2 separate regions of the Homo sapiens genome follow, and region 1 is linked to region 2. The links come from fine-mapping of genetic effects on gene expression. A gene starts in region 2. The other region holds a variant in brackets. All regions are shown on one strand. Distances are between the middles of the regions.

Evidence for each region. PIP is the estimated chance that this variant, and not a neighbour inherited with it, causes the effect.
Region 1: its variant is the best candidate, but not a certain one, in a credible set for the expression of MGAT1 in Th1/17 cells (Schmiedel 2018, PIP 0.89).

What each region holds. Positions count from the first base shown.
Region 1 is chr5:180,143,537-180,146,441 of GRCh38, reverse strand. The region is part of intron 1 of RASGEF1C (RasGEF domain family member 1C); the gene reads left to right. Among named protein-coding and RNA genes, the nearest start is that of RASGEF1C, 64 kb to the left of the region's middle. The variant G/C (reference allele first, on the strand shown) is at 1,190.
Region 2 is chr5:180,801,458-180,804,362 of GRCh38, reverse strand. It overlaps MGAT1 (alpha-1,3-mannosyl-glycoprotein 2-beta-N-acetylglucosaminyltransferase), which reads left to right and starts at 1,557. Exons shown (of 2, transcript NM_002406.4): 1 at 1,557-1,683. RefSeq lists enhancers at 1-123, 578-687, 831-1,537, 1,538-2,245 and silencers at 1,058-1,107, 1,118-1,197, 1,368-1,727.

The DNA of each region.
Region 1 (2,905 bases), 660 kb after region 2:
AGCTGGCCAAGCACAGTGGCTCATGCCTGTAATCCCAACACTTTGAACGGATCACTTGAGCTCAGGAGTTGGAAACCAGCCTGCGCAACATGGTGAAACCGTGTTAAAAGTACCAAAATACAAAATACAAAATGAGCCGGGTGTGGTGGCATGCACCTGTAGTCCCAGCTATTCATGAGGCTGAGACAGGAGAATCACTTGAACCTGGGAGGCAGAGGTTGCAGTGAGTCAAGATTGTGCCACTGCACTCCAGCCTGGGTGACAGAGCCAGACTCCATCTCAAAAAAACATTGGGGGAAAGCTTCATGATATTGGATTGGGCAGTGACTTTTTGGATATGATACCAAAGACACAGGCAACAAAAGACAAAAATAGACGAATTGGACTTCATCAAAATGGAAAACATTTGTGCCTCAAAGGACACTATCAACAAAGTAAAAAGATAACCTACCGAATAGGAGAAGATATTTACAAATCACATAGCTAATAAGGGATTGATATCCAGACTATCTAACAAACTCCTAAAACTCAAAAACAAACAAATCCCAAACAACTCAATTCAAAAATGGGTAAAAGAGGACTCTTGGGGCTAGCTGCCTCATGCCCCTGCAGAGGTCCCAGCAGCAGCCATGCTCGAAGCGTGAGCTCCAGTTCTGTGGGGCTTCTCCTCTGATCTGGGTCTTGAAACGCCACGGCTTCTCTTTTGTTCCTTAAATCTCAGGGGTGGGGTAATTACATCCTGTCACGGAACCAATTCTATGAATTAAATTTTCTTTGCTTGAAAAAAGTGGGGAAAAGTCTTGAACAGGCATTTTTCTAAAGAATATATACAAATGGCAAATGAAAAGATGCTCAAGATCACTGATATTTAGGGAAATGCAAATCCAAACCACAATGAGATACCACTTCCCACCCATTAGGATGGCCATTATCAAAAAAGCAGAAAACAACAAGCATTGTCAAGGATGTGGAGAAATTGGAACCCTTTACATTGCTGTTGGTAATTTTAAATGGTGCAGCGGGCCGGGCACGGTGGCTCACGCCTGTAATCCCAGCACTTTGGGAGGCTGAGGCGGGCAGATCACCTAAGGTCAGGAGTTTAAGACCAGCCTGGCCAACATGGTGAAACCCCATCTCTACTAAAACAAAAATTAGCCGGACACGGTGGTGGCACATGCCTGTAATCCCA[G/C]CTTCTTGAGAGGCTGAGGCAGGAGAATCGCTTGAACCCGGGAGGCAGAGGTTGCAGTGAGCTGAGATTGCACCACGGCACTCCAGCCTGGGTGACAGAGTGAGACCGTCTCAAAATAAAAATTAAAATAAAAATAAATAAAATGGTGCAGCTGCTGTGGAAAACAGTATGGTAAAGGGGGAAACAACCCCCACTGCCCACTGACAGATGAATAGATGAACAAAATATGGTATGTGCATGCAGTGGAACAGTATTCAGCCTTAAAAAGGAAGGAAATTCTGACGCATGTTACAACAGTGGTGCACCTTGACAAAGATGAATGAAATACGCCAGTCACTGAAGGACAAATGTTTTATGATTCCACTTATATAAGGTACCCAGAATGGTAAAAATACATAGAATGTAGAACTGTGGTTACCAGGGGCTGGGGAAGGAGAGGAGGAGAAATTGGGGAGTTAGTGTTTACTGGGTACAGGGTTTCAATTGATGATGAAAAACTTCTGTGGACGGACGGTGGTGATGCTTGTGCAACAGTGTGAATGTACTTAATGCCACTGAACTTTACACGGTAAATTTATGTTAAGTATATTTTTTTAATTTTTATTTTTTTGGTAGAGGCAGGGTCTTGCTCTGTCACCCAGGCTGGAGTGCAGTGGTGCAGTCACAGCTCACTGCAGCCTTGAATTCCTGGGCTCAAGCAATCCTCCCATCTCAGCCTCCCAAGTAGCTCGGACTACAGGTGTGTGACATTACGTCAACCTAATTTTTAAAAACTTTTTCTAGAGATGAGGGTCTCACTGTGTTGCCCAGGCTGGTCTCAAACTCTTGAGAATGTGTAAATGTGTAAAATTCTGCACATATTCAAGCAAGGGCAGAAAGGGCTCTGATTTGGGGCCGTGGACCCACCACAGCCTTTGAGGCTAAAGCAGTGGGACCATTTCCAGCAGCTGTTGGGACGTGGTTTCAGCTGCAGGGCTGGATGGGCAGGTAGAGGGTCGCCCCAGCTGCAGCCAGCACAGAAGCCATGGGGAACCATGGCGGTGCAGTTGGCAAGTCTTTTTGGCACACACAGAGCCTTGGTTAACAGCAGTTGCTGCCTGTGTTGTGGTCTGGCCCTAGCAGGTGGCGAGCTCCCCGTGGCGAGTGCTGGCCTTGGGGGTCCTTTCTCCACAGCAGGCACTGTGCGAGGTACTTCGTGCACCAGTCTCCATAACCTGAAGAGGGGGACTGCTCCCTCTTCTCAGAGCTCACAGGTGTCTTCCTGAGACACGCGCGTGGTCCTCACAGGGGCCTTCGGGAGCCTTCTTTACCTCTGTCCCTTCTGCCACACCTGGCCCAGGGAGAACATCCCTCCAGCCCCCAGGACGCGCTCTGACCAGCCACCTGCTTTTCTTCTGCAAGTTCGATGGATTTCCATTTTGCAGATGTTTAATGCCAGCCACCCATGCTGAGGGATGTGGGGACCCCAGCAGGAACAGGGTCTGTAAACTGACCACCTTGGCACTACAGATGTCATTTCTAACTGTGCTTTAACTCACTGTGTGGCCCCATCAGTGGCTTTTTAAAAAAATAGAATTAATTGCCACCCTTACAATCACAATATGAAACGTAAGTCAGGAGTCCTGGATGTCCTGGATGACTTTTACACCAGGAAGGTCTGAGCACGCCAGCTCCCAGAGCACAGCAGAGCTTGTGGGTTTTCACTGGTACAGCCGG
Region 2 (2,905 bases):
GCCCTCTCAAAGCACTGGCGCTGGAGGATGTGTGCGGGGGTGTTGGGGGGCGCACAGGAGTGCCCGGTCTAAAACCTGGCTATGCTCCCCACCAGGTCTGGTGGCTTGCAGCACGTTTGCACTTACCCTGAGCCTCAAACTAGTTATCTGTAGAATGGGGATGATAACGCTCACTCCGCAGAGCTGCTGAGGCTTGAAGGACAGGCCGAGGGAGGGTTTGGCCCGTGAGGCCCCTCACCATGCCTGGTGACCCCTTAGCAGTTTTGATTTAGGTCCTCGCCTCCACGCAGGGGCCTGCGGGTGCGCGCGGCCCTTTGTTTCTCTAGAACCCTGCACGATTCGTGGTTTCATGTAGAAACAAGTTAGTGAGCAGTCAGTCAGTAACCACAGGCCGCAGAGTTCCGGGCTGCTCCGTGCTCTGGAACACGGGGGAGGGGTTGATGTCAGGGGCGTGGGTCCTGATCACATGGCAGCAGCCCTTCTTGGGGAAGTCAGCTACCCAGCAGCCTGTAGTCCTCGGCTACCCACCCTCACCGCCTGGGGTCCCATGGTGAGACAGCTGGGTGGGCATCAGGCTTCTGCAGAGGGCCAGGCCGGAGGGAGCTGGGCGAGGGAGTGGGGCTGGCTCCTGGCTTGCACCGGCCTCGTGGAATCCAGGCCTCAGACCTGATCGCTGGCGAAACTGGCTCTGTGCGCTGGAGCCCCTGGTCTTCTGCGTCTGTCCTCCTCCCGGCCAGACTTTACTCCTGGCTCAGCGACAGGTATTTGCTATGGAAGAGCTGTCCCTCCCTCCCCTCGGTGGGCCTGGGTCCACCTCCACCTCCTCTTCAGGTCCGCACCTTCCTCCCCTTTAAAACACCAGCCGGGCGCAGACCCGTTCTAGGCTTTTCCATGGTGCTTCCGCCAAAGCTTGTGACCGAGTCCTTCCCGCCTAGGGCTGGTGGGCCTCCCCTGCTGGTAGGTCTCTCTTCGCTTTCTTTACTCAGAACTGAAGCTCTCATTCCCCACCCACCAAGGAAAAACAAAAGGGAAGAAGCCACAGCTGGCCCCGGCTTGCTTTGGCACAGGTGTTTCCCCCCGGCCCCCCGTCGGGCACCCTGGTTCCTGTTCTGTCCCTGCCCCACGCGACCCTGGGGCTCCCACCCGGGCTCCTCAGCCTCCCCTGGGTTGGGGTGGGGGGACTGGCTCCCAGCCCTTGGCCTAGGGTTTGGTGAACGCCTTTCCTGGACTGCGGGCCCACTTCAGGCGCGGCTCCAGGCTGGGCAGCTGCGCTGGAGGGCCGAGGGCAGGGGTGGGGTCGGGCGTCCACCCTCAGGGTTGCGCCAGGGAGCCGGAAAGCCGACTCCCGAAGTTGGGGTCCTGGGAAAACTTGGGTCCTGGGTTGACTGAGAAGCGGCGGGGAAAGGAGGCGGGCCAGGAGGAGGGGGCCTGGCGGACGCCGGCCGGGGGGCGGGGCGCGGCGGGGCTGTCGGTCACGCCCCTCAGTCCGCCCCGCCCCGCCCCGCCTGCCGGGGAAGGGCCACGTTGCCCGCCCGGCCGTCCGGCCCCGGCGCGCCGCAGAAAGGGCTGGCGAGTCGAAAGGCGAGGCGGCCGCGGCAGCGCTTGGGACGCGCCTGGGCACCGGGCTCGCTCCCTGCGCCCCGGAGCAGGCCAAGTTCGGGGCCAGGACGTCGGGAGGACCTGGTGAGTAGGTGTCCGGGGACGGAGGTCAGACCGGGGGAGGCCTCGCGGGCGCCGAGAGGGAGCCCAAGGGACGTCGGGTCGCCCCAAAGCCCCGGTGCCCATGAGTGCTAGCGAGAGGGGGCTTGGCTGGGGAGCGGCCCGGTCCGACCCGGTGCCAGCTGCGCGTTAGTCCCTTCCCGAGCCGAGAGGTTGGAACTCCGCCTTCTGCTTTCGGAATCCCGGGCCTCCAGCTGTTAGAGGAAGGGCGGGCTCCGCGGACTGGGGAGGATGTTGTGAAACTCGGCCCCGGGCGTCCGTGCGTGCGGGGCAGGGAGGGGGTGGGATTGGGGAGTGGCCTTTCCCCCCTAACCTCACTCCAGCATCCTTTCCCCAAGTTAATAGAGGCTGATTCTCCTCAGCAGAAAGGAAATGTTGATTCAGTGTTGAAATATATATATAATAAGTTGGCAAGAAAACTTTTCTTCCTGTTTGCTAACGTGTGTGGAGTAGAGAGCCCCGGGACGTGCAGTGCCCGCGTCTGATAAACTCTGAAGTAGAGGGACTGTGGCTGGCCGGCTCCCTGAAGGCTGAAGCTTCACTTTGGTTAACCCTTGCTGCTGTAGTGGGTCTGCCGTTTTGTTTTAGAACATCACTGGCTGAGATGTTGCCCAGCTTTATTTTCAGTCATTTACGGTATTTTTTCAGGCCGTGTAGCCTTTGCTCTTACGTGCTCACATCATCCAGGATCTGCCTTCCATCAGCAATCACTGCGTCCTGGTCCTTCCCAATTCTGGGGACCATTGAGCTCACCCATTTCCCTGCTTCTGTGTCTCATTCTCACTGTTAGAAGCACTGCGGTATGCCTGACCTCAGTGGCCTGTGTTAACAAGGGAAACTCATTACTGTTCGGGGCAGTAGGGAAATTGTCACTGTCGTCAGTATCCAGGCAGTGGGACCTTGTGATGAACCAAATCAACCCTGTCACCTTATAGATGAGAGAACTAAGGTACAAGTGGGTCAAGTGACTTGTCCAAAGTTGCCTGGCTTGCTGGCTGGATCGCCTGAATCCCAGGCCTCATGCCTTTTGTGGCACTTGTATTTAGCTCTTCTTTTCCAGGATGAATAACCTGCATCCCTTCCCTCCTAGGTCTTATTCTCTCAACTCTTGAATTATTTAGTGTATCTTCTCTGACTACCTTTCTTTTTTTTCCGTCCTGAAATTATGGGCCTGGTACATGATACA